Homo sapiens: one gene and its partner. The main gene of each other region encodes a partner of the protein of the gene in region 2 in a complex. Each region holds a gene or a part of one and is shown on either strand. Other genes may lie near its edges.

Evidence for each region. Proteins that work in one complex are often made in the same cells at the same time.
Region 1: NUP43 (region 2) and NUP37 share a complex: the UniProt entries of both Homo sapiens proteins name them as parts of the nup107-160 subcomplex of the nuclear pore complex.

The regions. Positions count from the first base shown.
Region 1 is NC_000012.12:102,072,552-102,075,114, forward strand, and holds the end of NUP37 (nucleoporin Nup37), read right to left. Parts: intron 2,544-2,563; coding exon 2,450-2,543; intron 1,917-2,449; coding exon 1,803-1,916; 3' UTR 552-1,802; downstream 1-551. UniProt on the Homo sapiens protein: Component of the Nup107-160 subcomplex of the nuclear pore complex (NPC). The Nup107-160 subcomplex is required for the assembly of a functional NPC.
Region 2 is NC_000006.12:149,729,490-149,736,540, forward strand, and holds part of NUP43 (nucleoporin Nup43), read right to left. Parts: coding exon 6,982-7,051; intron 2,247-6,981; coding exon 2,124-2,246; intron 1,275-2,123; coding exon of another isoform or gene 1,144-1,274; exon of another isoform or gene 30-1,143; coding exon of another isoform or gene 1-29. UniProt on the Homo sapiens protein: Component of the Nup107-160 subcomplex of the nuclear pore complex (NPC). The Nup107-160 subcomplex is required for the assembly of a functional NPC.

The sequences.
Region 1 (2,563 bases), on a different chromosome or scaffold from region 2:
TTTTATATTTCTTGGACATATCCTGAAATGACAAATTCTTGTAAGAGTCACTATTGATAGCCCTTTGGCTATCCTGATGCTTTTAGGAATCCTTGCCCCATCACAGAGATTCTTAAAGAGAACCATGTCAAAATTCCTTGCTCTTTGCTTTTTCCTTTGTTAGTTCAAAATCTTCTTATGAAGGGGTAAACAAAACAATTTATATCATTTGGTTATAATATTTAACTGTATTAAAAAATTGACTAGGAAATTGCTATAAAATTTTTCATCTGTACTTTAAAGCATGTAAAAGTTGAACCCAAACATCTACATGGTTATAAAATTTCACTGAATTCTTTCTTTTAATTACCTGGAACATTCTCCTATCTCTTAAAAATATAATGTTCTTGATTCTACAATTATTTTAAGACACCTTAAGAATAGAAAACTGGAGTAAAAAATATTTACTGGCATTAAACATAAATCTCTAAAACCTCAAAAATAAGACCTACTCATCTCTGAAATAAATAATTTCTATACATCTCTGAACCACGTGACAGACACATACTAGGTATTTTCATTCACCTTTATTTAATCTTTACAGCAACTCCACAAAATAATGATTCCTATCTGTACTTTACAAGAGGAAATGAAGCTTCAAAAAGGGCATTAACTTGCAGGAATGGGCAGTTTGTCAAAATGTATTGGATTCTGTATGTGACTGACAAGCAGAACCATAATTTTATATGCTTCTGACTGTACCATGATGTATCCCAAAAATGTGATACAGCTGTCTTAGATAACGTTGATTTTAATGATCTTTGAGAGGGTGAACACAGTTCCATTGCCAACAGGTCCCATCTCAAAAACACTTAAGTTTCTTGGTAAGAACAGTGAAAATTCACAAAAAGGAGGCTGTTAAAGGTATACACTAGAAGTCATTTTTCAAGGTAACTTTTGATCCCATATATCAGATGTTCTAAGACTGTTAGAACACCTCGTCCAAAGGAATCTGCGTATAATAAACAGGGTTGAGCAATATAATCAATCACATATTTAAGAAACTGAAAACAATTTTTTACATTAAATTGAGTACACATACACATATATATACTCAACAACCACTTCCAGAATACCCTAAGATATTTTTTTCTCCTTGGATTTTTTTTCTTTTGAGATAGTCTCGCTCTGTCGCCCAGGCTGCAGTGAAGTGGCACGATCTTGGCTCACTGTAACCTCTGCCTTCCAGGTTCAAGTGATTCTCCTGCCTCAGTCTTCCAAACCATGCTTGGCTAATTTTTTTTATTTTTATTTTTTTAGTAGAGATAGGGTTTCACCATGTTGGCCAGGTTGGTCTTGAACTCCTCACCTCAAGTGATCCACTCCCTTCAGCCTCCCAAAGTGTTGGGATTACAAGTGTGAGCCATTGTACCTGGCCTTTTTTTCTCTTTTGATAAATGTGTCCCTGAGAATTAGAAAAACAGCATATACTCAAAGTATAGAAAACAGGATACACTTCAAATACTCCTTTTTTGATAAACTCAAAAGCATTATTTTTCCTTAGTCATCTCTTCTCTGGAGGTGAGCTGCTGAGTCAATATGATTTTGTAAGATTAAAAATATATATATATACACACACAGAGAACAGAGTAGAAAAATAATTTTTCAAACCATCAACATTTTATTTAATAAAAGCAACTGAGACATTTTCTAAAGTATACGGTATATTTGATATAAAAATTCTTCAAAATATGTACTATAGAAATTCTTCAAAATATGTACTAAAAATACAAAGTTTGTGAATCTAAGGTACAGAAAACACTTTATACTTCAGTCACCCAAAACAACAGCTTGTGGTCTCCTCCAATTACACACAGAGGGAGAGTTCGATGCCAGGACAGTCCAGATCCAACGGCTACAGAACCCATGAGGATGGGCTATAAAATATGTGAAGAATTAAAGAAGCACAGTAAGTCCCCAAAATTAATAAATAAAAATGACTTTCAAAAATATGAAATGCATTGATGATTTATCTTTGTAGCATAAACAAAATTTAAAAATATGCTCCCTTACAGGTGAAATACACATTATTGATACGCAGCTGAAACATGGGATACAATCCATCTATGAATAACTGGTACAGTCCAGACTCCATTTTTGCAGTCTACACCAACCAAACAAGCAAAATTAATGTATTTAAATAAAGAAGAAAATATAAAAGCAACAGAATAAAAAGCTTCTTATATGAATACTGGCCAAAAAAACCTGTTGTCACTGGTAATGTAAACATCAAAAAAAAACCACACAAAAAACAAAAACAAATGAACCACCTTTTCTTGCAATTTAAGCAGATAACAAACGTAAATGTCTTCAGTCAACAAATTACAAATTTGGGGCTATGAGTGGAAAAGTCAAAAACACAAATTAAAAAAAAAAAAAGCACGTATGTTACAAAACATTTCCACATTACCTGAGGGTGTCCTAAATGATGAATTTGAAACTGGCTTGCCATTTTGCCAGGATAACCAGTGGTTGCAAACAGATTTTCACTAATTGTGGACCACCTAAGAAATAAGGAAGCGTA
Region 2 (7,051 bases):
TCAGCCTGGTTGAGGGAGCGCCTTTTCTCCTAATTCAGAACAAACTTTTACAGCATTTTCAACAGTCAAGTAGCAGGGGTACTAACAATTACTATTTCTGGGTTTTCCCTTTTCTTCCTATTTGTTCTCCCAGCACCCCTCCTATTACCTTTTGTTTTCCCAGCCCTTCTAACACATGTGAGACCAATTCCTTCTACATCTAAGGTAGTTTCTGACATTCTAATTGGACTCTTACTGATACATTATCTATTTTTTTAACTATTAGAATATTTGCTCTATGCGTTTCGACATTTCGTTCTGCTCACTGTTACACGTCCTAACACCTAGAAGAATGCCTACCACATGGTAGGCATTCAGTAAATATTTCTGAATAAATGAATAAGCAAAAGAACTTTGGAGCCACAGACAAACCCTCAAAAACAGGAAACTTGGAAAATGCAAAAACACATAAACCCCGATTACAAGTGCATGGTCTTTGGCTGACCATAACCTACAACTGACTGTAATGAGGAAAGCACGCCCTTTTTTTTTTTTTTTGAGACGGAGTTTCGCTTTTGCTATCCAGGCTGGAGTGCAATGGTGCAATCTCGGCTCGCTGAAACCTCTGTCTCCTGGGTAAAAGCAATTCTCCTGCCTCAGCCTCCTGAATAGCTAGGATTACAGGCATGAGCCACCACACCCGGCTAATTTTGTATTTTTAGTAGAGACGGGGTTTCTCCATGTTGGTCAGGCTGGTCTCGAACTCCCAAACTCAGGTGATCCACCTGCCTTGGCCTCCCAAAGTGCTGGGATTACAGGCATGAGCCACCACACCCGGCCTGAGATCAGGCCATTTAACCAGTACCCTCAGTTACATCAAATATCAACTTTTTTCTTGCCATTCACACAAACTTGGCAATGCAATATGAAAGATTTGCCACTGTCTATGCTATGGCATGAGGGTCCAGGTTAATGGCACTCACAAAGGAGAACCTTGGCTGTCTCAAGTGAGCCAGCTTACAGCATTTCTAGCCATCAGCCATACAGTAGTAAGTAACTTGACAGTCAGATTTCAAGCCCTGTGATACTCAAATTTACTCTGAGGCAAGAGAATAAAAATGTTTTGCCATTAAGTAAAAAATACGAGGATGTCTAATTTGGTATTTAAAAGTATAAAATGGCTGGGTACAGCCAGCTCATGCTTATAATTGCAATACCTCGGGAGGCCCAGGCAGGAAGATTGCTTGAGCTCAGGAGTTTGAGAGCAGCCTGGGCAGCATAGTGAGAGCTCATCTCTACAAAAAAATTAAAAAAAAAAAATTAGCTGGTTGTGGTTGCAAGCATCTCTGGTCTTAGCTATTTGGGAGGCTGGGGCAGGAGGACCACTTAAGCCCAGGAGGGCGAGGATGTAGCGAGCTGTGATCATGCCACTGCAGTCCAGCCTGCATGTCAGAGTGAGACGCTGTCTCAAACAAAAAAAAAACAAAATAAAAGTATGATAAAATTACACATAACAGGCTGGGCACAGTGGCTCATGCCTGTAATCCCAGCACTTTGGGGAGGCTGAGGTGGTCAGATCACTTGAGGCCAGGAGTTTGAGACCAGCCTGGCCAACATAGCAAAACCCCATCTCTACTAAAAATACAAAAAAATTAGCCAGTTGTGGTGGCACACACCTGTAATCCCAGCTACTAGGGAAGCTAAGGCACAAGAAAAGCTTGAACCTGAGAGGCAGAGGTTGCAGTGAGCTGAGACTGCACCACTACACTCCATTCTGGGTGACTGAGTAAGACTCTGTCTCAAAAAAAAGGCCAGGTGTGGTGGCTCACTCCTGTAATCTCAGCACTTTGGGAGGCTGAGGCAGGCGGATCATTTGAGGTCAGGAGTTCGAGACCAGCCTGGCCAACATGGTGAAACCCCATCTCCACTAAAAATACAAAAAAATTAGCCGGGCACGGTGGTGCATGACTAGTAGTCCTGGCTACTCGGGAGGCTGAGGCACGAGAATCGCTTGAACCCAGGAGGCGGAGGTTGCAGTGAGCTGAGATCGTGCCACTGCATTCCAGCCTGGGTGATAGAGTGAGACTCTGTCTTAAAAAAAAAAAAAAAAAGTACACATAACAGTATTCATTAAAAAGTTTTACCTTGGTGAAAGAGTGACGACTTTTCAGGTACATCTGTGGAAGCATCCCAGTGCCAGAGGGATCCATCTTCAGAGCAGGTAAAAAGATGTTCTGGGTTGGATGGGTGAAAGTGAACTTCCCACACTAAGAGACAAGAATCAATAAGCTCATTCCTGTGCAGATTCGCTGAACAAACAACATTAAACCCCCATCTCTAGGCATCATCTTCCATTATCCTCCATCACATACCTTCGAGCCTCAAGTCTGTCCTAAAAATTAAAGGCTTCAGAATTAAAGAAAAGACATAATGTAACTTTCCAATGGCTATAACACATAGAAAGGAAAAAGAACACTTTAGGAGGCTAAGGCGGGTGGATCACCTGAGGTCAGGACCAGCCTGGGCAACATGGTGAAACACCATCTCTACTAAAAATACAAAAGTTAGCCAGGCGTGGTGGCGCGTGCTTGTAGTCCCAGCTACTTAGGAGGCTGAGACAGGAAAATCACTTGAACCTGGGAGGCGGAGGTTGCAGTGAGCCGAGCTCGCACCACTGCACTCCAGCCTGGGCGACAAAGTGAGACACTGTCTGAGAAAAAAAAAAAAAAAAGAAAAGAAAGGAAAAAGAAGCCAACTAAATTTGCGTACTGGGCAAGGAAATAAATGAAAATAGTAGCCAGGCACAGTGGCTCATGCTTGTAATCCTAACACTTTGGGAGGCCAAGGTGGGTGGATCACTTGAGGTCAGGAGTTCAAGACCAGCCTGGCCAACGTGGTGAAACTCCGTCTCTACTAAAAATACTAAAAATTAGCCAGGCATGGTGGTGGGTGCCTATAATCCCAGCTACTCAGGAGGCTGAGGCAGGAGAATCGCTTGAACCCGGGAGGCAGAGGTTGCAATGAGCCAACATCACACCATTGCACTCCAGTCTGGGCAACAAGAGTGAGACTCTGTCTCAAGGAAAAAAAAAAATGTCCAGGCGCAGTGGCTCATGCCTGTAATCCTACCACTTTGGGAGGCCGAGGTGAGTGGATCACCTGAGATCTGGAGTTCAAGACCAGCTAACCAACATGGTGAAACCCCATCTCTACCAAAAATACAAAAAATTAGCCCGGCGTGGTGGCAGGTGCCTGTAATCCCAGCTACTTGGGAGGGTGAGGTAGGAGAATTGCTTGAACCCGGGAGGCAAGGTTGCAGTGAGCTGAGATTGCATCACTGCACTCCAGCCTGGGCAAAAAGAGCAAAACTACGTCTCAAAAAAAAGAAAAGAAAATCATTGCTAAAACATTTAACCCTATTACTTTATGAAAAAGCTTATTTTATTTTATTTTTATTTTTTTAAATAGAGACAGGGTTTTGCTATGTTGTCTACCTTGGTCTTCTACTCCTGGCGTCAAGCAATCCTCCTGCCTCAGCCTCCCAAAAGTGCTGGAATTATAGGTGTGTGCCCAGCTAGGAATGACTGTCTTTTACGGAAAAGTTTTTTTTTAAATTGGTAAGTTGTCTTATTTTTCAATTCCTGTGTCATTAATATATGAAGATTATATTATTGGAAAAACTGAGAAAGATCCTAATGAAATATAAAAATGAATTTCTAAGAGGCAATATCCAATATTGGTTAATGCCAAGATTCTGAATACTTCTGGTCTTTATCACAGAAATAGCAACTGACTTCTACCAAACCAAAATTTGGAAATGTTCCAAGAATTTGGATCCAGTCTCAGATGGAGGGCTTTTTATTTTTTATTTGTTGATTATTTATCAAGAAAAACTATTTCTTAGCCCACATATGTATGCTTCATACTTTAGGAACATAGGTCAGTGACAAACTTCTACATAATTCAACTCAAAGAAATTCTCTCTCTCTTTTTGAAACAGGGTCTTGCTCTGGCGCCCAGGCTGGAGTGCAGAATGGCATGGTCATGGCTCACTGCAGCCTTGACCTCCAAGGCTTAAGCAATCCGCCTATCTCAGCCTCCTGAGTAGCTAGGACTACAGGTATGTATCACCATACCTGGCTAACTTTTGTATTTTTAACAGACATGGGGTTTCTCCATGTTGCCCAGGCTGGTCTCAAACAACTGGGCTCAAGAGATCTGTTTGCCTTGGACTCCCAAAGTGCTAAAATTACAGGCATGAACTACCGTGCCCAGCCCCAAAGAAATTCTATATATTCCAAAATCACTTTCAATTCTGAAAGATACCAGTCTTCCTCATTTCCTCAAAATCTGTTTTGTTTTGTTTTTTTTTTGAGACGGAGTTTCACTCTTGTTGCCCAGGCTGGAGTGCAATGGTGCGATCTTGGCTCACCACAACCTCTGCCTCCCAGGTTCAAGTGACTGTCCTGCCTCTGCCTCCCTAGTAGCTGGGATTACAGGCATGTGCCACCACGCCCGGCTAATTTTGTATTTTTAGTAGCGACGGGCTTTCTCCATGTTGGTCAGGCTGGTCTCGAACTCCTGACCTCAGGTGATCCACCTGCCTCGGCCTCCCAAAGTGCTGGGATTACAAGCATAAGCCACCGCCCCCGGCCATCATTTCCTCAAAATCTTTTATGGAATCATAATTTCTATAGAAATCTAATAATAAAAAAAATTAGCTAGGTGTAGTGGCATATACCTGTAGTCCCAGCTACTCAGAAGGGCAAGGCAAGAGGATCACTTGACCCCAGGAGGTTGAGGCTTAAGTGAGGTACCATGCCACTGCACTCCAGCCTGGGCAACATATTGAGACCCTGTCTCTACAAAAAATAAAAAATTAGCCGGGTGTAGTAGGGGTGCGTGCCTGTAGCCTCAGCTACTCGGGAGGCTGAGGTGGGAGGACTGATTGAGCCAGGGAGGCAAGGCTGAGGCTGCAGTGGGCTGTGATCATGCCACTGCATTCCAACCTGGGTGAGAGAGACCCCATTTTTAAAAAAATATATAGGGCCGGGCGCAGTGGCTCACACCTGTAATCCCAGCACTTTGGGATGCCAAGGCAGGCAGATAACCTGAGGTCAGGAGTTTGAGACCAGCCTGGCCAACATGGTGAAACCCCATTCCTACTAAAAATACAAAAATTAGCTAGGCATGGTGGCAAATGCCTTTAGTCCCAGCTACTAGGGAGGCTGAGGCAGAAGAATGGCTTGAACCCAGGAGGCAGAGGTTTCAGTGAACCGCGATTGTGCCACTGCACTCCAGCCTGGGCGACAGAACAAGACTCTGTCTCAAAAAAAAAAAAAAAAAAGGATAATCCATTCTGGCATGATATCAAAGACAGAGTGAGAAAATGAAAAATTTCTGTCCGGCTAAATCATCTCCACCAGAATCAAAAGAAAAAAAAAAGCTTATAAATCTATTGTTCATGTTAAAAAAAATGATGTGATGCAACAATAAATTGAGGAGCACAACATTTATTAACAAATATGACAGCCTGCATTTGCATGGGAAAAGGGCATTCTTGCACACTTCACTATGGCATATAAAATGGTATGATTTTTATCACTTTTCAGGGAGTGGGGTCTCACTATATTGTCCAGGCTGGAGTGCATAGGTGCAATCATAATGCACTACAGCCTTGAATTCCTGGACTCAAGCAATCCTCCTGCCTCGGCCTCCTGAGAAGCTGGTGCATGCCACTCACCTGGATTAAACTAGTATTATTAACTTTTTAAAGAGGTTATGTTGCCTAAGCTGGCCTCAAACTCTCAGGCTCAAGCAATCTTCCTGCCTCAGGCTCCTGAGTAGGAGGAGCCTGGAACTACAGGCATGTGCCAATGTGCCTGGCTTAAACTGGTATTATTTTTGTGTAGAAAAATCTGTCAATGCGCTATGCAAAATGTTTGGCCTAGCAATTCTACTTCTAAAAAATTATCCTAAGAAAATAAGTACATAAGGCTGGGCATGGGCATAATGGCTATGCCCAGCACTTTGGGAGAATCGTGTAAGTCCAGGAGTTCAAGGCTGCAATGAGCTATGATCACACCACTACTGCACTCTGGCCTAGGCAACAGAGAGAGACCCTGTCTCCAAAAAAAAAAAAAAAAAAAAAACACACACAGAGATAAATATCTAAGGATTCTAACTACAGTTTTGGATATAAGAATTAAACCTGTGGTTGATGTGGTGGCTCATAACTCATACCTGTAATCTCAGCACTTCCTGAGGATCACTTGAGCCCAGGAGTTTGAGACCAGCCTGGGCAATAAAGTGAAACCCCATATCTACAAAAAAAAAAACAAACAACAACAAAAAATCAGCTAGGCATGGTGACACACACCTATAGTCCTATCTACTTGGGAGGCTGATGCGGGAGGATCACCTGAGCCCTGGAAGTCAAGGCTGTAGTGAGCCGTGACTGCACCACTGCACTCCAGCCTGGGCGACAGAACCAGACCCTGTCTCTTTAAAAAAAAAAAAAAAAAAAAAACCAGGCACGGCGGCTCATGCCTGTAATCCCAGCACTTTAGGAGGCCGAGCTGGGCAGATCACCTCAGGTCAGGAGTTCAAGACCAGCCTGACCAACATGGAGAAACCCAGTCTCTACTAAAAATATAAAATTAGCCAGGTGTGGTGGTGCATGCCTGTAATCCCAGCTACTCGGGAGGCTGAGGCAGGAGAATCGCTTGAACCCAGGAGGCAGAGGTTGCGGTGGGCCAAGATAGCGCCATTGCACTCCAGCCTGGGCAACAAGGGTGAATCTCCGTCTCCAAAAAAACAAAAACAAATGTTAAAGAACTTAAATGTCGAGTAAAAAGAAATTACATAACTATTTAAATTTACACAATTCAGCCATTAAAAGCTATGATGTAAAATGATCCACATGTATCATTATGGAAAGGTGCTTATTATATGTCATATAACTCACCCAATATAAACTTTCTGTATCTTCACAATACTTACTTTCAGCTTCATGAGCCTTCAGCAGAGATACAGGCATAGTACCTTGTCTAACATCCCAAATACTCAACAT